Linked DNA regions of Homo sapiens: all the other regions are reported to be linked to region 1. Evidence: microRNA targets listed by miRTarBase, many of them from high-throughput screens and not tested one by one. Region 1 holds a microRNA gene; each other region holds the end of a gene's coding sequence. Distances are between the middles of the regions.

Evidence for each region. The annotated mature microRNA hsa-miR-135b-3p reads AUGUAGGGCUAAAAGCCAUGGG and lies in region 1 at 3,239-3,260, opposite strand. An mRNA with a match to its seed (bases 2 to 7 or 8) in the 3' UTR can be bound and repressed. Matches are read on the target gene's strand: a 7mer-m8 pairs with bases 2 to 8, a 7mer-A1 pairs with bases 2 to 7 and ends in A, and an 8mer does both.
Region 2: the mRNA of MSL2 is a reported target of hsa-miR-135b-3p. Seed matches in the 3' UTR shown: 8mer at 5,124-5,131.
Region 3: miRTarBase lists TREML2 as a target of hsa-miR-135b-3p. Seed matches in the 3' UTR shown: 7mer-m8 at 3,360-3,366.
Region 4: miRTarBase lists NTPCR as a target of hsa-miR-135b-3p. Seed matches in the 3' UTR shown: 7mer-A1 at 1,211-1,217.

The regions. Positions count from the first base shown.
Region 1 is chr1:205,445,085-205,450,837 of GRCh38, forward strand. It overlaps MIR135B (microRNA 135b), which reads right to left and starts at 3,314; the gene lies at 3,218-3,314. The region is part of intron 1 of BLACAT1 (BLACAT1 overlapping LEMD1 locus); the gene reads right to left. It also overlaps a transcript of LEMD1 not described here. RefSeq lists enhancers at 185-696, 697-1,208 and a silencer at 4,899-5,108.
Region 2 is chr3:136,145,836-136,151,588 of GRCh38, forward strand. It overlaps MSL2 (MSL complex subunit 2), which reads right to left. Exons shown (of 2, transcript NM_018133.4): 2 at 3,082-5,753. The coding sequence ends at 5,312. It overlaps PPP2R3A (protein phosphatase 2 regulatory subunit B''alpha), which reads left to right. Exons shown (of 14, transcript NM_002718.5): 14 at 1-2,059. Among named protein-coding and RNA genes, the nearest start is that of MSL2, 48 kb to the right of the region's middle.
Region 3 is chr6:41,187,861-41,193,613 of GRCh38, forward strand. TREML2 (triggering receptor expressed on myeloid cells like 2) reads right to left here. Exons shown (of 5, transcript NM_024807.4): 4 at 4,941-5,041; 5 at 1,889-4,646. The coding sequence ends at 4,567. Among named protein-coding and RNA genes, the nearest start is that of TREML2, 10 kb to the right of the region's middle. RefSeq lists enhancers at 3,483-3,990, 3,609-3,678.
Region 4 is chr1:232,977,435-232,983,187 of GRCh38, reverse strand. It overlaps NTPCR (nucleoside-triphosphatase, cancer-related), which reads right to left. Exons shown (of 5, transcript NM_032324.3): 5 at 1-5,025. The coding sequence ends at 4,957. Among named protein-coding and RNA genes, the nearest start is that of NTPCR, 30 kb to the right of the region's middle. RefSeq lists an enhancer at 4,235-5,434.

The DNA of each region.
Region 1 (5,753 bases):
AGGAGACCGGATTTGGGGGATTAGCTCGGGCGGTGGAGCAGACACACCAGGAGAAAGAATTAAAAACGAAGGGGGTGAATTGGGTTTTCTCTCCCCACCTCCTCCCTCTCCCTCTCCCTCTGGCCGCCACGGAGCCTCCTTCCCCACCCCTTCCCCCAAAGCCTAGCCTCTGCAGGTTTCTGGGAACTGTAGTCTACAAGACCGTGTTGATAAACAGGCAGGCCAGGGGTGGGTGGTGGCACAAACTACAGATCCCAGGACTTCTTCCCGGAGTTGGCACCAGCAAAACTGGGCACAGACCTCCAGTCTGGGAGAAGCCCGCATTCTCCTTGGAGGTTAACTCCTTCTTGGCCTGCTTGAGCCTGAGCTCTAGCCTCTGGCTCACCGAGCTCTCTGGAATCACAGGCCAAGGCCTCTGCCTCCAATGGCCTTCAGAGACCACAGACCCTAGCTTGCCAGACCAGCCACCCTTGTATCTTGCTTGCCCACCTATGGAGAAAGCTCCCTCCACTTTTCCAGACTGCAAGGGCAGCCAAGCATTCTCAGTGGTTCTGAGATTCTTGGGAGCTGGAGAGGTCAGAGCAGCAATAGTCCTGAAATGTCTTTGTGGCCTGCACTCAGTGTTTTCCAGCCTGGCTCGGCAGAGGCTGGCCCACCGTAAGAGTGGGCAACGTGACAGGCAGCAGCAGCTGGGAACCTGGTGGACCAGACTGTCAGCGCCAGAATGAACCCCAAAGGTCAAACTTTAGTGTCAAACTTTCGAAAGATGGGGAGAGAGACTTTTTTTCCCCAATAGTCTTTATATTTAGGAAGGAGTAGGGCTTAGTAGTCAAACTCTATTTCCACTAAAAATGGAACAAATACAATAAGAGAGAGTCATCTGAATTCAGTGTTGTTAAACATGGGCCCACTCTCGCAAGGGAGGCCTTATGCTGGGTATATCTGAGGACTGTAAAAAAGACTTAGATTGCTGGGAATAAAGTTTCAGCCGTCTGCAGGCAGGGGACAGGACACACACAGCCCTCTGATCTGTGAATCCTCCAGGGAGAAGGGACATGAGGGCAACTTGCTTATTCAATGCAATTGAACAATCATGTGAAATATACAATCACATATCTTCTCCAGGCCTGTCCCATTGGCAGTAGCCAAGAGACAAAGAATAGAATGGAGATCCACCTTTGTAACCCCCAGAAGCAATCCAGGCCCAGCCCCAGCAAAGCGAGGACTGTCTCGGGTGAGTTGCTGAGCTGTGGGCTTGCTCTATGTCCCTGCTGGTGGCAACTTACCTCTTTTACCCCATCCATCTTTTCTCCCAGTTCGTACTTCATTCAACAAACATTTACTCAGCCATCCCTACAAAGTCCCTTGCCTTGCTAGAGCTTTACAGAGGTATAATCTCTGGAATGGCTCATCTGTACCCTTCCTCCTAGGCTGAGCCCAGTGCTGGGGACTACCCGGGCAAACTGAACAACAGGATTCCCGGGAGGGGCCCAGTTGCAGGGGGCAGGAAGGTGGCATGGCTCTAACCTGGCTTTCCAGTTAGGAGATCAGGAGTTAAGGGAAGGAAATCAGGTGCCTGGACAGCCTCAGAGCAGGGTAGGGAACAGGATAGGCTCACTGTGGGCCCAGGGCAGCTGGACAATGAGGGAGGTGGAGGAAGGTGCCAGCCATCTCTGAACTCTGGGTGAGAGAACCCAGAGGGCAAGTAAGAAACCCTGGCCAATTCTCATGCCTTGTTCCTTTCACCATCTAAGCTGGGGCAGGAGGGGAAGTAGCCTGGATCAGCCCCAGCAAAAACCCAGCTGGCTTGGGATTTCTCTTTGCTTCTCCTATTGTTCTGATCCCCCCGCTCCCCCCGACCTCCTGTGGGAAAAGGAAAACCAGTGATGGACAAAGGGTGATTGGAGTTGGGCCACGGGGCCAATTTGTGGACGTGCATCCAATAGAGATCTCGTGAGAACAACCTCCCGTCTGGGTACAGCACTCCCTGGTTTTCAGAGTACTTTCCCATGCACTGGTGTTGGCTCTCCCAATATGCAGCATGATGTGCTAAGAGCATGGGTTTTGGCACCAGACCACGTGGGTTCACGTCCCAGTTGTGCTCCTTCCTATCCATATGAACGTGGGCCAATTTCTTAGCTCCCTGTGCCTCAGAATTCCCATAAGTTAAATAGGCTAACAGTAGACAGGACTGTCTTGAGGATGAAATGGGTTAGTGCAGGTGAGGCGGTTAGAATCATGGGGTACATAGTAGGTACCCAGTAAGTGTTGGTTGGTGAAATTAAGGGCTCTGAGATATTATAAGAAACTTGCCTTCTGATTGTCAATACCAAATCTAGTGCTTTCTGTGATTCTTCAGTGGTCTGTCTTAGACAGACTGGGGACTGGAACAGGGAGTAGGAGGCGGGGTACGAGGATGCTTCCTCTTCCACCACAGCCACCTGTTGGAATCTTCCAGGATGGGAGGGCTAAAATCAGGCCGATTTAAAAGGGGGCAGGGGAAGGAATGTGGGAGTGGCGACAGGCATAGGGAGGAGCCAGGCAAGCTGAGTGACAAGCAGGACGGGGGCAGGGAGGGCTGGTGCCCTTCACACACCGCAGGAGGGGGCAGCTCCTGGAGATGGTAGCACACCAGGAGCCAGGGACCCTGGAGTCCAGCCTGTCGCCCGGGGGAGCGCCTGCCTTCCTAGTTTCACTCTGCAGACACCTCCTCTTCCCTCGTGGCCGGCATGGAGTGTTCCCATTTCAGCCTCAGAAAGAGCCCAGAGGTCTCCTTACACAGAAAAAAGGCTGCAGATTCCAAGCTGACCTCAGAGAAAGGAGTGAAGGAGTGAGGTTTTCCTGGAGGCACTGAGCAAAGGCCCAAGTCTTCATGGCCTGAGGCCCTTGACTTCAGCCCCCAAATCTCTGGCCATAAGCCAGGCCTCAGTAATTTGGCAAGGGGGAAGGAACCGACTCAGAAAGCTCAGCACACCCTGAAGGTCTCCTTCCTTCCTCAGAGGGAATCTCCCTCTGGAATCACCGGCCCAGTCTCTTCATTCCAGAGTGAGGAAACAGGGCCAGAAGGGAAGTGACTGGGCCAAGGTCACACGGCTTAGCCCCGATCCCAGGTTACCAGATCCCGTGATGCCCCACCCCCAAGCAAAGCCTCCTTCTGGTGCCCCTTGGTGGCTGGCTCCGAACCTGGTCCCATGGGAGGTGCAGCTGCGCAGGAGAAGGAGCTCGCCCCTCACTGTAGCCCATGGCTTTTAGCCCTACATGAGTTTGGGACAGCAATCACATAGGAATGAAAAGCCATAGGCCACAGCAGAGTGGAGGGGTCCAGCGGCAGGAATCTCATAGGGAAGCGAGAAGCTGGGGCACCCGAGAAGCCCTCACTCCCCTTCTCAGCACCCCCGACCCCAGACCCACCCACACTGCCTCCCTCCAGGACTGGGCCCCCCAGGTTAAATTCTCTCACCATCTTCCACCACCTGCACTAAAGCCATCCCAGTAATGAGTTTCCAGTTCTTGCCCTACAAAGGCCTCACACAATGGTCCTCACTCCAGGGTATGAGGAGGGGTGGCTTCCTGGCCATAAAGGACCTCCTCAAATTCCCTTAATTAGCTTCCAGCCCCCTGCCCAGGGTCCTTAACTACCCCTTCCCTAGAGAATAAGGCCGGATCTTTTCAAGGCTGCTGCTGCCAGTACCCAGGATGGGGGGCCCCAGGTTAGGCTCCCTCTTTACAAAGCTTAACTCTTTCTAGTCCAGCCACTGGAAGCACAGAGGGCAAAGGAGGGTCTGGGTAAAGGAGGGCAGCGATGAGGACCTACCCTTTGTTTAGAGGGGTTAAATAGGTTTCTTGAGTGCCCCCAGGGGTGGGGGCTGGGCCAACCTACCCAGACCAGTCTGGGTGGTTACCGACAACACCCATTCTTGCATAGTTTAGAGGAGAGTGAGATCTCTGTCTCCAGACCTGGTTGGAGTCAGAAAGAGGGCTTCAGCTGAAACCTCCCCAAGCTGAGGGCAGCTCACTCTGGAGCCATCCCTGACAAGGCTGTGGGAGGGGTGCGCAGTGCCCTGCCGCTCTCATTGGCAGGACATGGGGGTTAGCACAGACATCTCTAGGACTGGATTGAAGAGCTGAGTTAAGGCGAACCAAGGTCTCAGGGCCCTGGAAAAGGTGTGTTCTAATCACAAGTGCTATTTCCCCACCCGCTCCCATGACGGGTCAGCTGCAGGCATCAGCTTCAGAGAAGTGGGCTTCTAGGGCTCCTGCTAGCCCAGGCTCAGGAAAGCCCCAGGGGCCTCAGACCTCTCCCAGGGGCCCCCAAGAAGATGGTAAGAGGCCCCAGGCCCAGATCAGGCCCTGCCTCTGCCAGGGAGTAGCTGCCTCTCCCACCCCAACTGTACCCTCAGCCCCAGGGCAACACTTGCTGGCTCCCTGCACAACCCTGGTAGAAGCAACCTGTTTTCACTGGACAGGAATCCTGCATTCCCCAACAACAGCACAGCACAGCACAGCACACAGCACACAGCACAGCACAGCACGCCCCTCCACACACTCCAGACATGCCCAACCTTCAGGGCCAAACAACCAGGCATCCTGCGGCCTCCCACCTGAACTTTGGGCCATCTGCCCCAGCCCCAACCCCCTCTGGTTCTCCTTTCCTTCCTCTCTCATGGGCCCCCAGAACCCCAGACCCAGGCCCTGCATAAAGCCATGGACTCTAGGCAGAATGCCCTCAGCTCCCTCCCAAGGGATGCTGGGCCAGGGGCTGGGGGTCCCAGGGGCTGCTCACCTGGCGGACTCAACAAGGCCCCCTTTCCCTCGCAGTCCGCCTCACAATTCCCCGCAGAGCCACTTCCTGCCTTCCAGGCAGCCACTCACTCCTCCACTCACCCCGAGAAGCTCCACGCCCCAGCGAGGGCAGGCCTCCTCCCTCCCCCTGCCCGCCCACCACCGGCCAGGGCTGAGCTGTACCCAACTCAACTTGACTCACTTGTGACCGGCCCCTCCCCCAGCCCTGAGGACGGTGGGGGTGGGGGTGGGGGCGGGCTGGGCAGGCGGGGCAGCCAGGTATTCCTTCAACCCTGACTTGGGCCTGAGTAACAAAGGTCTCATTGAGCCTCTGGCTGTCTGGTCGGTGAAGCACAAACCTCTTGTATCTACTGGCTTTTGATCTCACTCCCTCTGAACCAGCCATGTATTACTCACGTCCCCCTGCCGGGCTATTGGTGCAGAGGGGCTGTTTGGTCCCTCCCTCCCTCCCCATCTCCTTTCTCTCCTTCCTTCCCCTGCCGCTCCCCTCCAGCTTTTTTATAGTTTAATTTTTGGCAGGAGACCTGAGACGGCTCCCTGCAGGCCCCCCTCTCCTGCCTGGCCCCCCTCCCCTTCTCCGCAGCCCTGGTTCCTCTCCTCACCCATACCCCTATTCTGCTCCCACCACTCCCCTGCCCTGGGAGGACAAGGTCAGCACTTATCTGTCCTTCCATTTCCTTTCTCAGACCTGCTCGAGCCTGGCCCCCTCCACCCACCCTCACCCAGTCCTGCGCTCGGATTCCCAGCCATAGCCTGCCAATCCCAGCTGCCTATCCCTGGGCACATGAAGGGCTCAGCCCCTGGCCTGCCTACCAATCCCAGCCCACCTGACAAGCCCCAAGTAAGCTGTGGAAGTAGGGCATCTCTCTCTAAGGTGTGTCTGGGCCAGAGGGACTGGGCTGGGGATGGAGGTGGGGACAGCCATCATGTCTCAGGCTGGAGTGAACCTC
Region 2 (5,753 bases), not on the chromosome of region 1:
AATCTCAAGATAAAAAAACACTTCTTAAATGAAGTATAGAATTTGACTCATACTTGGAAAAAGCCCTTTTAACTTTTATCTTTTATTCATTGAACTATTGAATGATGTATTTAATATCCAAATTAGTTGATAACTGTTTTCACTTCCTATCAGAAGGCCTGCTTGAAGACATAAAGGAATAATGATACATTAAAATTCTTACTAGATAGATATATTCCTTCCTCCCAGGAGTATTAGACTAGCTAATAGTAAAGGCCTCAACGTTATTCTTTACTTCATGTTGAAAACAATTACTACAGATATTTCATCCACCTCAGTATTTATCAAGGAAATGGAAAATGATACAGCTATAAAAGAAAGCTGTTATTTACTGTAGTTGTAGATGTATTCACTACAGAATCCTACATTTTTCAGCAGGCCACAGTCCAGCCAAATCCTATAATATCCTTGAAAAGAAACTATTAAAAAGGATAGACATTTCTGATGTAAGTAAAACCCCCAAGCAACTTAATATCCATCTGTCAGTCATCAACTTTTCCCCTAGATTTTTTTTTTAACTAGTTCTGAAAGTGTCAAGAATAGCTTCCCTTTCCACCCTACCTAGGTTCCCTCCTTGCTGGCATAAAGGCCAAGCAGTGAAATGAACCTTGGGTTAGAGTTATGGTAGGCAAAAAGAAAAGGAGAATTTAGGAAATAAATATGCTATAAACAAGGTACAGTACAGTGAGAGTTAACAATCCTAGGAATCCTGCCTGTCACAAGCTCCCAGTTCCCTGTCATTTTATCTTCATGATTAGAACTGATCTTCCATTTAACTATTACAGAAAGCAGTAACTATTGCAACTATCTAATAGTTCACACAAAAGAATTAAAAGCTTAAAAATAATTTTTAGGAAACACAATATTCAAAATCTAAACACACTGATAAATTATTAAGATTAAGATTATTTATGTGATAAATGAAATCTCCTACCAATCCATCCAGCCTTTACCAGGGAAGAAAAGCAATTATTTCATTTCAGATAGAAATACAAAAAAAAAAAAAATACTTTTCTTAGAAGCCAGATATGGTTTAAATGTTTTATTATCCATAATGATCTAAACTAATAAGATTCACCAAAAAGTAAAAATTCAATTTTACAATATACATTTTTTTTTTTAACTATTTGGCTTTACCTTTTTACCTTGGTTCTCCTTACTGAAGTCCTCTTGCTTTCACTTTGATCTGGTTTTTGAAGTCTCTTAATTATTGGCTGGGCATGGTGACTCATGCCTGTAATCCCGGCACTTTGGGAGGCCAAGGGAGGTGATCACTTGAGCCCAGGAGTAAAGACCAGCCTGGGCAACATAGTGAGACTCCGTCTCTACAAAAAATAAATTTAGCTGGGCATGGTGGTGCACATCTGTAGTCCTACCAACTTGGGAGGCTGAGGCAGGAGAATCGCTTGAGCCCCAGGCTTCGAGGCTGCAGTGAGCTATGATTACGACACTGCACTCCAGCCTAGGCGACAGAGCAAGACCCCATTCTCTTACAAAGTCTCTATTATAAAAGTACATCCATCAATACCATTCCATTTAAAATGGGCTATTGTAATTTACCCACATTATCACATTTTCAGGAATTATAAGAATGTGTTTTATTGTACTCCTTCCTTGGAGCTGAATGCAAGGAATGTGAATTCTGAGGAATTAAGGTAGAATATATTTGACTTTCTGGTAAAGATCATGGTTAAGTATAATCATTACTGCCAAACTGGAATTTTCAAGTTATTATAATATCCCAGGCCCCTTGATAAAAGCTGAGGGTTATCATGACCTTAATGCTAATTCAATGAGAAATGAGTTTAATAGCATAACATTACCAAGGTAATCAAACTAATAAAATTCCATATATCTTCCCTGCATCTTGTCACTGTGTACCATTCAAAGTGTTTATAAAACTCTAGATTCATCAAATGAGATTTGCTCAGCTTTTTGAAATGTTAAGATGTGTTTGGAGAAGGCTGCATGACTTTGTTTTTCCCTTTTAGCAAAACTAAATAAAGTTGTCAAATATGAATCATGTTCATTAAGGTAATTACTACACACTTGTGCTTTTAATCATATTTGCACCTCATTTTTTTGTCTGCAAGAGTAACACTGTAAACAAGCTTGAATGTCAGAGAATAACTCTTTGAGCCCATGTGAAAACTACAAAGAAAGGTCTTTGTAGTAATGACAATATACTGAGAAATGATTTCTTCAGGGGATAGGGAAGAGGACCAGGGTTTGTGAATGAGGCGGAGTTCACAGGAATCAAGGTAGACTTTAGCCTCATCTATAATGCATTATTTTAAAAGAATGTGTAACGGCATGTTTTGGGGTACCTAAATTTTATTTCAGAGGCAAGGTCTATGTTGCCCAGGCTGAGTTCGAACTCCTGAGCTTAAGTGATCCTCCCACCTCAGCCTCCTAAGTAGCTGAGATTACAGGCACACACCACTGTGCCTAGCTTTTAATTTTTTTAAAAAGAGAAAAGTATAAAATACCATACTTTGAACTTAGTATTTTCTAAAGCATTTCTGTTTTTTATCTATGATATGGTTATGGACAATTTATTTTTCATCTGATTCCCATAAAACTTTTACTCTTCTTCAACAAGGTCACCAATAAATTGTTTTAACTAAGAATACAATGAAATAAAAGGAATTCTTTATCCCTAGGACCATACTACACCTCCTCCCGGAAATGCAGACTTAATAAGGCTAACCAAAAAGATAAAATTGTCAGCTCTAAAACTATTACCTAAGGTAAAAGATCATTTGATCATTTATATTAATAACAAGGACTCAACAATTCAGGATGTGTCTTATTAAATGCTGCTGTTCTTTGGTGGTTTCAAATCCTGATGAAGTAAATCCAGTTACTTCAGTAATAATCTCTCAATCATCCCTCGTTAGCCATTTGTCAGCATTCCTAAGTAACTCGTGGTATAAAGAAAAATAATATAAAAATCAAGGCACTGTGATTACTCTTCCCCAGATGTATATAATACAGACCATTCAGAGCATGCTATCCCAAACTCTTCAGTATTCTACAACATAGAATTAGAAAACTATCATTTATTGATAGATTTAAGGTGTAATACAGGTTTCCAAAAATGTGGCAGTGAGAATACCAGCATAAAAAAGAGAAACTTGTGCTAAAAACAACCTGAATTCATCATTGGCAATATTACATAACAATCAAGGCCCTCACATACTAATGATTTCCACTTTGTCTATATTGCCAACCTCCCATGCATCAAAAAAAAAAAAAAACCCACAAGATTATCAAACTTGGGAAGCAATAAAGTACTCTATGAATTTTAAGATCATAATATTAGGAAAGTTTGGTCGATTTGCAAAATATATCCTCATCCATGTGTACAATCTCATTTCTAATCATTTTTGCAGTGATCATTAGTGAATAAAGAACAGATTTACAACTTTATATAGCAGGGCATCTGGGTTCAACACAAAACTGTTACAAACGTTAGGTAAATACACGTTTCATAAGACACTGCTAACACTTAAAGGAATTAAATAAAATTCCAAATCTTGGAAAGCAAATAAAGACAAGACAACTAAGAAGCATTTTCCACCATTTACTCTTGTTATCAAAAATAGTTCAACTCTTCTTGCAAAACAAAAACAAAATAGTACATACTGGACACATACATCACATTTTTCTTCCTATGGCTTTAGCCCACCCCCACCCCACCAAAAGAGACCAAAAAAAAAAAAAGAAAAAAAAGCCCAACAACAACAACAAAAACAACTCTACCTGACCACATTCACAGAAAATGACACCAGGATACACTACAAAACAGAAGGAGGTGTCATCTGCTCTGTGTCCAAAGGTTTCTTCTCCATGTCTTGTACTAGGCGAGTAACCATCATTGAACATGCTGTGTGCCAAATCAAAACATAACTTCAGCATATGTCAGATCTTACTAGAGATGGTGAACGTAGTAGAAATTGGAAATTTTCCAGCAGTATTTTTCTTTAAATAAGCACTGTCAAAGCTGCAGCTCTTCTTTTAAATCACAGGTTATTTCATTACACCTAGTCAGTCCTTGTTTTATTTGGGCTGTGCTCTTTCAAGCAACTGACTAGATTTCCCTTCAACAGAATGTTTGTGACTCACTTGTCTTCCCCATAAAAATTAACCGGAAGAAGTGCATTTAAACTGAAACATACTTTGTGCTTTACATGCAAAAGAGCATTCTAAAGAAAATCCTCCTAGCTTCAACCTACCTAAATGCACAGGCTTTATAAAAAGGCATTCTTATTAGGCCTCTATAAAGAAGCCTTCATAATGAACAGCACCCTAAAAAAAAACTAGGAGCATATTCAAAATAAAGACTGTGGCAAATAAACTATTAGAGAAAATAAGTCAAAGTGGCGGCCAGTGGCAATAAGTACAATACACAAATCTGGGCAAGTCTGGGAGCATTATTCCAAAATTATTTTAAGTAAATCCCAATTACTAAATAAAATCTTTTTATAATTTTAAAAAAATTCTGTCACATACTACATAGTCTAAATTTAATTACCTTCAGAATAAAACTACTCTCCTTCATTTATCCAATTAGAACACTGCTCAAAGTGAAGGAGGGATTTAGAATTTCTTCCCTAGAAATGAGTAACAGCTAAACATTTGTAGTCTGACAGAATTTTACTTTTTAAAAAGATTTCTTAAACATTCTAATGAGGGGGAATTTTTTTTCATAATACTGCTGATTTAAGAACTGCTACATACACCAGTAGCCAATATTTCATGATCAGAAATGGTATGATGTCAGCACAAAGGTTGAGCTGGACACATCAGCTTTCCAACAGGAGAAACATCAATGACATCTGAAGGCAGCACTGAGTTTCCTGAACTAATGGCTACTTTTCCACAAAAAAATTAGCACAATCTTTATGGACTGACTAGATACCACTTCCTTACATTTAATCATAAACTTTGATTATGCACAAAGCATGGCCATAAACAATGAGGTTAATGTTATTTTTCTTGCCAAAGTTCATTTTGTATAAATCAGTTGCATCAGCTTTGTTCTCAAACTATGAGGTTCTGTAAGAACTAAGGACATATAGTTGTAGGGTTACTCCTCCATTATCTGCAAACTATTTCCCCGACACTAACACATATAACTTAGCAATGAAAACACTTGATACAAGTGATCTATATGCAGGAGCTCCGGCAAGTTAAACCAACAGAACCATAGCTGCCGTAAAACTGTAGCTATTTCCCTACCAGGAGTAGGTTTAAAAGACCCACTGATTTAACAGTCGAATCTCATGTCTATAGCTTCATCCAAACTTTTATCATCATGTGTACTGGCAGCTAAAAACGTCGTTACTGGGGACCCTGTGACATTTATTACACTGGTGCTGGTACTAGCGTTACGCACAGCAATGCTAGTCACGTTAATGCCCAAAGTGAGCCTGGTCTGCTCCAAGGCCTTTTCTGGCACGGCAAATGCCTCCAGCTTCTTCTCCCCATTGGCCATATAGGAGTTTTGGCAGCCACGACATATACAATCTAAGCAGGCTTTGCGGTTAGAGTAGCAAGGGCAGCGTTGGCCTCGGCATGTAAGAACACTTGGATTTTGAGTAGCACGCCCACATTTACACCCTTTCTTTTCCTGGGGTTTTTTGTACACAGTCTTGGTAGGACTTCCTGGCATAAAATGATGACTAGGAATCTTTTCCTTTACTGCTTTG
Region 3 (5,753 bases), not on the chromosome of region 1:
TGGCTTTCTGCAGCTGAGGAAGACCCCAGAGAAGCTGGCAGAGGAGACCTGCCCTCACCACTCCTAATGTCCATCAGTCCCACATGAGGAGCTGGCAGCACGGCATCCACTCTCTCAATTTGATCCAGAGTGAAAGCATGTTGCAGCCATTGAAGAGAACTGTAAACCTAATGCCTGCTTGCTGGGCTCCATGCAGGTGTGTGTATATCCAGGAGGTACTGGATTTACTTTATTTGTTCTTCCATTGGCCATGATGGCCAGCCCTTCCCAGGTGTGTGTTCTATGTCCACAGCCTGTTGCTCAGGAAGCTTTATTGTCTCACCTGCTAAAGTGAGCAGCCTGTCCGATGCCCCACCTGCCCTGCACCTTCCTGCCGTGGATCTGCTGTGGATCTGGGTCCCTGGAGCTTCGAGAAGAAGGTTGAGAGAGGAGGGAGGAAGTGAAAGGCTGGTGTGTTTAGGAAAGTGTCCAGTTGGGGCTGGGGATATGGGGCTTGGTCTATAGCTCCTCAGCCCCCGTGTCCTTACCATGGGAGTTCATATGGGAGCAGGCTCCTAGGGTGAGCAAATTGTGCTGGTTCACTTGGTTCCAGGAACCCCTCAGGGGCATACAGGGACAGTTGGTCACCCTCACAGCTACCGTGCTCTACTTCAGGACACAGCTAAAGGCCTCTGCTTGGGTTCAGCAACCAGCTGGTGAGTGGCCATGTCCCCTTCCACCCTCCACAGCCCTTCTCGTCAAGCCTCCCCATGGCTCCCAGCTGCCATGGCCTGTGCAGTCTCTGCACCTAGATCTCACCTCCTGACTCCACCCTGTGGTTTGCGCCTCAGATAGAGCCCCACCTCCTCCCTGAAGCCTGCCTGGCTAGCCAGAGCCTGCAGGATTCCCAGTTCCCCATCTTGGAAGGACTTGAGAACCTCCTATCTCTTGCACTGTGGTGTCTTACCCTGTGCTAAGGTCTGGGGTGTACCCAGCAGTGCCATGTCTCCCTTCCCTCAGAGGCTGTGAGCAGATTGAGGCCAGGGCTGGTTCTTGTTCTTTTCCGGTGTGCCCCACCTCATTAATGCTGAGCTGTGTCCATGCAACTGTTCTGCACATGTTACTGGAAAGGGATCCCGATCCAGACCCCAAGAGAGGGTTCTTGGATCTCATGCAAGAAAGAATTCAGGGTAAATGCATATGGTAAAATGAAAGCAAGTTTATTTAAAAAGTAAAGGAATAAAGAATGGCTACTCTATAGGCAGAGCAGCAACATGGGCTGCTTAGCTGCTTATATTTATTGTTACTTCTTGATTATATGCTAAACAAGGGGTGGATTATTCATGAGTTTTCCAGGAAAGGGGTGGGCAATTCCTGGAGCTGAGGGTTCCTCCTCTTTTCAGACCATATAAGGTAACTTCCTGATGTTGCCATGGCATTTGTAAGCTGACATGGTGCTGGTGGGAGTGTCTCTTATCATGCTAATGCATTATAATTTGCATATAATGTGCAGTGAGGACAGCCAGAGGTCACTCTCATTGCCATCTTGGTTTTGGTGGGTTTTAGCTGATTTCTTTACTGCAAACCTGTTTTATCAGCAAGGTCTTTATGACCTGTATCTTGTGTCAACCTATCTCACCCTGTGACTTAGAATGCCTAACATCTGGGAAGGCAACCCGGTAGGTCTCAGCCTTATTTTACTCAGCCTCTATACAAGATGGAGTCCATCTGGTTTAAACACCTCTGACACACATACCCAAGGAAGTCAGAAGAGGCTTCAGAGCTCCTCTCCACCCTCCTGTTACAGTCTCACCAGTGCACCACAATGTAGCAGTCTCTCATTGTTTGAGGTATCACTGGAGTTCTTTGTCTCACAACAATGAAAATTAAGGAGCGTGGACACCAAGGATGAGGTTGGAGTGAAAGTTTAATGAGTGAGAGAAGAAAGCTCTCTGCTGTGGAGAGGAGGCCTGAAAGAGGGTTGCCATTTTTACAGTTGAATGTAAAGGCTTTTATAAGAAACCGATGAGGACTGGGCAGCTCATCTGCATAAGGCATGAATTTCTGGTAGCTCCCTGCTGTCCTTCTAATGTACATGTGGGCCCTTGGCTTGAGTTACTTACTCCATATTGCTTTGTTCCCCTTACTGCACATGTCAGGGGATGAAATTTTCCATTGCAGGCATGTTTGGGCAAGTCACCTGTGTAGTCTGTCTTATCTATGAGGCTGTGGGCATGTCTTAGGCAAGCCCCCCTGTGCAAGTTCCCATATCTGTGCCTGCAGCTTGATTTTTCAGGCTGTTCTTTTGTTTAAAAGAATTCTACCGAGAACCCACCCTAACTGCCTGCCTGACTGGTTTCTTCCTTTCTCCTCTCTCACTCCTTCTCCAGATGAGGAAACAAGATCAGAGAGGGACAGTGACTTGCCAAGTTCACACTGAGATGAGTCCACCCTGTACCCTCCCCTCCTCAAAAGAGGACCTTACCAAAGGGACTGTCATCGGGGGCCCTCAACATCCATATAGTGATGACACTTGGGAAGAGATATGACAAAAGCAAGAAACAGAATCCTAAGGTCTTAAATGTAATGTTGGAAACAACATTAGAGCTGGAAAACAACTTAAGGAATAATGGTAATGAGGCATTTGCATCATTGTACAATGCTAATGTTATTTTATCTTGAAAACAATCTTGAGAAGTAGGAATTATTGTCCTCTTTCACAAGACAGGAAAAATGAGGCCAAGGGTTAGTGACTTGCTGAGGGTCACACAGTGACAGAGTGGTATCCTGGTCCCTGTCCCTGACTTCTTCCCTAGGGCTCCTCCTCCTGGGCATCTCACTCAGAGGAAGCAGGGCCATCAGTGGTACTGGTGCCAGCTCTTGGGGAGCTATTTTCCCCCAGGTGGGTTAAGTTCTCTCCTAGTATACAACAGGATGGTGGCTACACCGTCATGATAGGGAGAACAGCTATCTTAGGAGGCTGCTTGCTAGACAGAGATGGGTGTGTGTGCGTGTCTGTCTGTCTGTCTGTCTGTCTGTCTGTCTGTCTGTCCTGGGTCCAGAGCCGTCAATTCTTCAGCCTCAGTCTTCCCTCTATTGCCCTCTCCTGGACATAGGGAAGAAGTGCCTCCTCCCTGCTGTCCCCCAGGATTACTCCCTGCCTCTTCCACTCTCCCCACATCCATCCTGAAGTGGCCCCTCTGGCTGTCCACCAGGGTCCTGGCTGTGTCACTCTCTTGGCCATTGGAACGTCCCTGACCCAGGGTTCAATGCACAGTTGTCACATTTATCCCCAGGTGCTATTCCAGTCACTCCAGGTCAGTAGACACCTGTGTGTGTGTGTGTGTGTGTGTGTGTGTGTGTGTGTGTGTGTGTGTGTGTGTAGGGGAATCCAGGCTGCATTCTCCAGCCTTCATTGCTGGACGCCAAGCCAGTGCTCTGGACAATAGAGGCTGAGTCTGAGCCCTGAGTCAGTGGGTGGGAGGCAGATTCCTCGGGACATTGGGTCCCTGGCCAGAGGCTACTTGGGCTCCATTTTCCCTGTCCCCCTGCCTGGGCCAGTCCTCCAGGCCGTGGTCAGTTCCAAGTTACTGTCTTCACTGTGTCCCAAGTGTGTCTTCTCTCTCTATCCTGAGGGGTAGGAGGAGGGTTGCTCCACCCTTCCTCTGAGCCATGGTCTCCCCACCAGTGTCTGTGGGGTGAGCAGCCTCCATACAGAGCCAAGGTCTCAGCCACCCCAGGGTATGGACTTCCTGGAGGCTGCTGGGTCCCCTGTGGGAACTCAGACTTGGAGCCCAGGTGTAGAAGCTGGGGGAGAGAGCCCCAAGTCCAGCCTCTGCACTTCAGTCTTGGGAGAGGCTGACCCTGCAGCCCAGAGGCTCTTAGCTGCCTGGTCACAGCTTTCTAAGGAGGCAGCGGCCAGCAGGAGGCAGCAGTGAGAGCGTGGGCTCTGCGCGGTCCCAGGACAGGAGGGAGGAGCAGCCCCAGTCAGGGCAGGGCCATCCAGAGGCCCAGCAAAGGACACCTGTCCCGACAAGAGAAGCTGCCAACCCCTCTGTGGGTCCCCAGCTTTTAGTCACTGTTTCCTCTCCTCCAGGATGGGACATCACTGCCTCTGGCATTCGTGAGCCCGATTCTTTCTTCCCTAACCTTAGGGGAAGCTGAAGCAGAACGGAGGGAAGCAGAGGACACAGTGGCCCTGGTGGGGAGGGCAGCTCAGCCCAATAGGGTTTCTGAGGCAGACGGGAGCTGAGGTTCTCTGTAAACAGCACTCTCAGGGTTCCCCTGCCTCCACCAAGAGCCCTGGGGTCTGCAGCTCCGAGCAGAAACCACTGGTCACATTTCCTCGGGACTTTCTCCCTGATGCCCTTTGCTCTGGGCCCCTCCCCAGGTTCCTGCCCCCAAGGAGAACACTGGGCTGTGGGGCTGCTTAGGATGGCAGCCTCTGGGTTTGGGAAGTCCTGGGTGAGTCCAGCACTGCACAAGTCCTCCAGCTTCATAAGATCGATACTGGCCCCAATCTTCACCCCTCCTCTAACCCCCTGGGGCCACTCTGGGAGAAGCTCCCCACCCCATGCTTAAGTGGCCTCAGATCAAGTAGACTTCCACATAGGGCTCTGGTCTTCCAGGTGGGTCACGTGTAGAAGGATCGCTGCACATGCTGTAGCCTGCAAGAAACAGGGAGAGCTGAGGAAGTGTCCTGCCCTGCCCACGGTGCCCCGATGCTCCTCCACCAGCCCCAGCCCCTTTCTGGCTCTGCCTCTGGTTCCTTCCAGGTCATCCCCTTAGGGTTGTGCTGGGTGGTCTCCGCCTGGCCGCCCTCCTCCCCAGGTGGAAGCGTCATAGTCCTTTTGACTGGACACAGGCCAAGGGCCATACCACGTGGGGACTCGAGGTCATAACCCTTAGTGCAGTTACCCAGAGCTCTGCCCTCAGGAGGCTGGGAGGTGGGCTCTACTCACTTGCCATGTGTCTCTTCTTCCAAAACCCATAGACCATGATCAGCATCAGCACCAGGAGGGTCAGCACCACCCCAAGCACAGTGGAGTAAACATCCTGGTGCCTGAGAAGAAGGGACAGGGTGGAAGCGGGTGAGCACCAAGGTCCCCCATCCTAACCCACGTTGGGATCGGACCAGCAGCAGAAACCCTGAGAGCGTGCCCTTCCCGGGGTAGACGGCCACCCTCTTCCTTACAGACCCGGCCACAGAAGCAAGTGTGACATCCGGAGTTAAGAGGAGGACGTCCCCAGGTAGAGGGGAACATCTCTCTACTTTGGTACCTCTCCTCCATTATGCCCCCAAATCTGTTCATCAGTGAGGATGAGGATTCTAGGAGACTCCCATTTGTGGCTAAAGAGATCAAGATGCTTGCTCTCCTCAAGGGGTCTGAGGATGCCTGTTCCCCCACTCTATCCTCTGTAGCAGATGCTGTCGGGCCCCTGCCTGTGTCCTCTTGCCTGTGTCATTTCCACCTGCACACATCATCAGCACCTCCTTTTCTGTGGGTGGGAGGCTGAGGCCTTTCTCTTGTCACTAGAGCCCTCTATGCCACACACAGCAGGCAGCCCTCTACTGATAACCAATTGGAGTTGGTGTGTAACTATGCGGGCTCCTTTGCCCTTCAGATGTGTGTTTTATGCTAGATCTGACTCTCCCCGTTGGGATTAGGCTCTTGTTGTGCACAGCAGCTGCTTGGTTAAGTACTCTTTATTAGAGGCCTTCCCTGCCCTGTCCCACTCCCCCACCTTTTTTCCAGTGTTCATATAAGACGCAA
Region 4 (5,753 bases), 28 Mb from region 1:
ATTTCTTCAAAGTATTTAGGATTTGGAAATTTGAGGAGAGGGTTGGGGGAAGGGTATTGTAGAGAATCTCTTGCCCCTTGGAAAGTAAATGGTAATGCTTTTCTAATTTTTTTTTTTGTAAACTAAGAATCAGCAATTAATAAAAGCAAGTGTACTCTATAATCACAGACAGAAGGTTCTTATTTTCAGGTCAGCACTCCCTAGAGGTGCAAACTTTATTTAATTTAAATGCAGTTGTTTGTCTAATGGGAAGCTGATAGGGCCTTGCTGCAGTTCTCTAAGGTGGCCAAATTAAACTTGGCTGGCAGCTCCTGTAATCCTCTTGGGCAACTTTACAGCCAAGCCCCAAGGGCTAAATGGCAGGCCTGGAGCTGTGAGTGTGGCCTCCCCACGGAGGGTGACTCCTTGAGTTCAGTGAGGAAAACCACGGTGCCTGGCAGTGGTCAGCCAGGAGTATGACTGGCCACTCCTTAGGCATCCAGAAGTAGGAAACACAGAAAGCATTCCACAAAACGGGGAATCTCCCCAAAGAGCTAGAAACCCAGGCTGGAAGGAAATGGCAGCGCAGGCAAGAGAGCAAGAGCACCCTGGGTGCTCCTCCATCCCGTTTCTCTGGGGAGGTTCATGAGGTGCTTCTTCAACAGTTATTCTGTTCATTGCTTATCACAGTTCACGAGTTCTCGTGGCATCTTTTGTGGGGAGGAGGGAGGATGAAAGTGACACAGTGTATCTACAACACTAAGGTCACATTAATCAGATAGGAATGCAGTGACGCTCTGCACCGTCTATGAGAGCGGGCATCTCGAGTGTGCATACCGAGGCACAGATGTGCACACACATCCGCAGGCAACTGCACCCACAGAGAAAAGGTGGCAGTATTGGAGTCACCCCAGGATTCTTGGGGGCTGTTTGACCAGCCATCAACAGTGCAGCCATACTTCTTTTTCTTTTTTATCGTGGTACACAACTTTTATATTTACAACTCATGAACTTGTTAATCTGGTCCTTCATCTAGTCAGCTATGTATCAGAAAGGACTTCCTGCAAAATGTTATATTCTAAGCCCCCATTTAGAGGAGGCATCCCTAAACTGACATTTCTTGCTAGAGTTGTTCAAATATTCTGCCAGTATATAGCTAAAGAGTTATTTTCCAGTTCAAGAGTTATTTGGGGGCTGGGCACGGTGGCTCACGCCTGTAATCCCAGCACTTTTGTAGGCTGAGGCAGGCAAATCATGAGGTCAGGAGTTCGAGACCAGCTTGGCCAACATGGTGAAACCCCGTCTCTACTAAAAATACAAAAAATTAGCTGGGCGTGGTGGCGGGTGCCTGTAATCCCAGCTACTCAGGAGGTTGAGGCAGGAGAATCGCTTGAACCCAGGAGGCGGAGGTTACAGTGAGCCGAGATAGCACCACTGCACTCCAGCTCAAGCGACAGAGTGAGACTCTGTCTCAAAAAAAAAAAAAAAAAAAAGAGTTATTTGGACACAGATCAAAATGGTTTCTCCTCTAAAGATAATATTAAAACCATAGCACTTGGTTTTATATAAATCATGTGGCCAATTTGGCATTATTGATTCTAAATTTTGCAGTGTGTTGAAATCATCTGGCAAGTAATTTGTTAAAATCATGCGATGCTTCAACTTCTTTGCCCACAAAATGTGCAATGCAATGCCTGTTTACTTAGCCCACCCGTCTCCAGCCTCATCTACCATGCTGTTTTGTCCCAAGTCACTATGCTACACAAGCATCCGCCATCAGCACACACACAGGTGTGATCCACAGACACAACCTTCTATGAATACGGTAATTGGCAGGAAAAGAAGAGGAGCAGGTCTGTTCCACATTTTCCAGCCCACCAGCGTTCCCACCCCCTTGATAACTGGAGGGCTGGGAACTGAGTGCCTGAATTTGCAGCTTTACTAGGATCTCTCCCTGTCAAGGCTGATCATCAGAGATGACACTATCCATTTAAAAGACTCACCCATCTCCCTGCATGTGCTTACCCTCACTGAGAGGTAAGAAGAAACAATTTATTAAACTATTACGTGTTAAGCAGCTGGCGGTATGATCTGCTAAGGAGGAAAAGGAAAGAATGATTTAGTAAATCGTGCTTCAAATCAGTCCTGATTCCTCCCATCCGACCTTGTTATTCTAGCTGAGATTCTTCATATAAGCAATACATGTTAATTCTGTGCTTTTCAAATTGAATTCCTCCCTGAGACTCATATCCAACCATCTGTTAGATATTTTGCTTTGTTTGAATAGGAGGCATTCCAAACTCAGGTATAAGAGAATCCCTGACTTCAATCTGCCCTGCTGCCCCCACCCCACCATCCGGCAAGAGCTCCTCACCTCAGCCGTGGCACCGACAGGGAGGTGGCGCTCAGCTCTGCTCCTCTCATCCTGGCTGCGTGCAGGGAGGGGACGGTCACGTGGAGTTCTGCCACGGCACCTCTTCTTCCTTTAAATCTCAGCATGACACTGTTGCTACAGGCTGTGTGCGTTTGGCCCTGAGTTCTAGTTATCTGTGAATTCATCTTATCCTTCATTAAATGTCATTGCCTTACAATACAGGGATTGCATCTGACATCTCCATACATGCTCCATGATCATTCTGTTTGACTAATACAACAATCATTTCAGGACCTCACCACAAGAGACACTAAACGTTCTTTGGATTTACAGCAGTTTATCACTGCTAAATGTCAACTCTGAGGTCTGGGGGCACAAAACACACTAAAAATGCTAAAGCCTCAAGAAGGACGCAGCAGGGAGTGATGAAAGAGTGAACTTTGGAGCCACGCAGACGTGGGTTCAAATCTCCTTTGTCACCGCTATCACTGTGCTCCTGAACGAACCACTTAAACACTCCAAGCTTGTCTCTTTACCGTTAAAGGGAAAGTGTGCAGAAGCTCCCGCAGCCCCAAGTGCTAGGGGCCACCCTGAATCTGTTCCACACAAGTGCATACTTTCAAGTAGGCAGTGACACTCCCACCCCACATAAGCACAACTGGCTTCAGTGATAAGCCCCTCAGACTAGCTATTTAACTTTGAAATAACCTTCACCAGCTTTCTTTCTCATTTAAGACAAAATCAAAGTCTACAAAACAGACACGGCTGAAACACCAAGCTCAAAAGGACAAGCACCAGAAGGAACATGGCCCTTGGTGTTTCAGATGCATGAAGGGCGGAAACGCAAAACGGCCTCCCGGAGGTGCCAGGAAAGGCTCCATCTTGATGGGGTCCCACTCCAGCTGGGGCTGACCAGCTCCACCACGCCTGGGTGCACATTGATGACATTTCCCCAGCCTGCCTCCCTATCTCTTGGTTCTCCTGAGGGCTGTGGTACTTTCAGATTTACGGCCAGGATCAGGTTCCCAGGCCTTTGTGGGAAGCCTCTACCCAACTCAGAGGCCGTGCCTCTCCTGGCCCACTGAGGCATGCAGCCCACACCGGTGTCCTGGTGATGGTGGCTGGAAGTCACAGCCAGCCTGCCAGACATCCTGAGCTCGGAACTCAGTCTCCCTGAACAGCCCCGCCAGGCAGGGACTGTGGAAGGAGATGCCCACTTCCTCCTCCTGGGCAGGTAGCCCTTTTGAGGGCTTAGTTCATAATCTATTAGGCCTCCCTGTTGTGGTCCCTCCAAGGCTAGGCAAGTCCAAGTCAAGCTTCACAAAGTTACCTCGGAAGAAAAGCGCTGAGGAAAGAGACACTGATGGAGGAACCAGACCTGGGCTGCGTGCCATTTTGGTTTTGATGTGAGCCCCTCCCGCCCCATTCACTGTGCCCCAGTGCCCAGCCCAGGGCTCCTCACCCGCCACATGCCCGACTTGTCCACAGTTAGAGAGAAGGCACACTGCTGCTTATACCAGTGGGTTTGTAGCCAATGCTAATTTGTTAAAAAAAAATCCTGGAAATTCATAGATCTTCACCAAAAATGACCTAAAAACACTGAACTGTTTATCACTCCAGTACCATCTACCACTTGGAGGGAAGTTTTTATCCTCTATCAGTTCTGGGGTTTCAGGGGTCTCTTCTACTTTCCTACTTCATTTTTATAGTACCCCTGTTATGGGCTGAACTCCGCATTGCTACACCATTATTCCTGATAAGCCCAGCCCCTGGCACTGGGCACTCTCCACAGTTGTGTGGAGTGGTTGACAGTTTCCTTCTGTGGTGTGACATCACTCCTGAGATGACAGCCACTTCCTGCTTTTCTGGAAGGGAAACTAGGCATAGAAAGATTCAAAATTGCTCCCGAGTAAACTAAGGCAAAGCAGTGCTCTTATGCAAACCCGTGGGCCTGAGCTCTTGTCATCTGGTCGGCTGAATATCAGATGCTATCAACACTTCCAAAGGTTGTGTATTCCTCCCACACAATGCCTCCTGTCTGTAACCATCAGATTTATTTTTATATTTATTAAGCAGTAAGCAAACAGAGTTGGGGGAGATGACCTAAAATGGTTTTCTTTTGGAATAATATTTTTTAAAAAATCAAATAACTGTTATCACTTTAAGTTGCATGAGGCTGAAGCTGCACCTGGAGAGGAATTTAATTTTCATGACATGCAAAACTGATTAGGCAGTGAACTCTTTCCTCCCGCTTCCCCTGAACACATTTATAAACTTCAACGGGGGTGAATTCCATCTAATACTCTGAAAACCATTTCTCATCTCACAGTTTACCCAAATCATGTGCATGACTGCAAGAGGAAATAAACAAGAAATCTTTAAGCATAGATAAGCCACAATGGATAGTTAATCTTGTACAGACAATCCAGCATTAAGGCTAATTTGATCTTTTAAACATTTTATGGGAAACAGCTGTTGAGTTTTCTCTAGAAAAGCCCACAAGGTTCCATAACCCCATAGGCATACAGCCTCGACAGGCAGGGCTCCATCAGGCTCCTCTTGAACTGGGCACTCCTTCACGGAAGGCAGGAATGCACGTGTCTTCACTTCCTGCTGCTCTGCACGCACGTCACGATATCTGGCAGAAGGTGGTTTCTGTTTTCCTTGGTGACCTGTGGGAAGAAGTGAGAGAACAGGCTTCAGAGCTCCTTTCCTCTTCTTCAATCTTGTGCTAGGTAACTCTCTAAAAGAAACGCCTGGAAGGCTGGGAGAGGGTGAGGTATGTTTTGTTACCCAGGCAGGAGGCCCAGCTCTTCAGGAGCACTCAGAAACAGGACAGGAATCACCGAGTCCCAGCATCAGTTTCTGCCAAGTGACAGCTCAAAAAGTCAAAGTGGGTTTGGAGCCCAGACAGATTTCAGCCAACCATGGGGAGAGCTGTGAAGTGAGTCCGACGAGGCACACCGGGACGGATGATGGGCACACAGGACCCCTGAGCACGACCTGTCCTGAATGGAAGGAACTCAACTGTTGGAGTGAAGCGAGGAGGAGAGCCTGGGAGCCAGCGGGGCCCAGGAGGGCACCCAGCAGAGCAGCAGTGAAGCGCCCAGGATTCTGGGATGCTCAGTCATCTACCCGCCTCTCCACAAACATCAAGTGCTCATTTGAAACATGGAGAAGTGGGAGAGCCAGAGACGTGAGGGTGCCTCCGTACAGACTGTTACTCAGGCCTCCTGACTGCAGTGTGTTCTCCAACACTTACACCATTACAAAATCAAACAAAAGCAACAAAGAGTTCACCAGAGCTTTACCCGATGATCTGTTTATTTTTCTTTCACTACCACACCATCCCGAGTGCCCCAGGGTAAAGGAAGGGCCATCTCTGCTCCCATCACAGTGC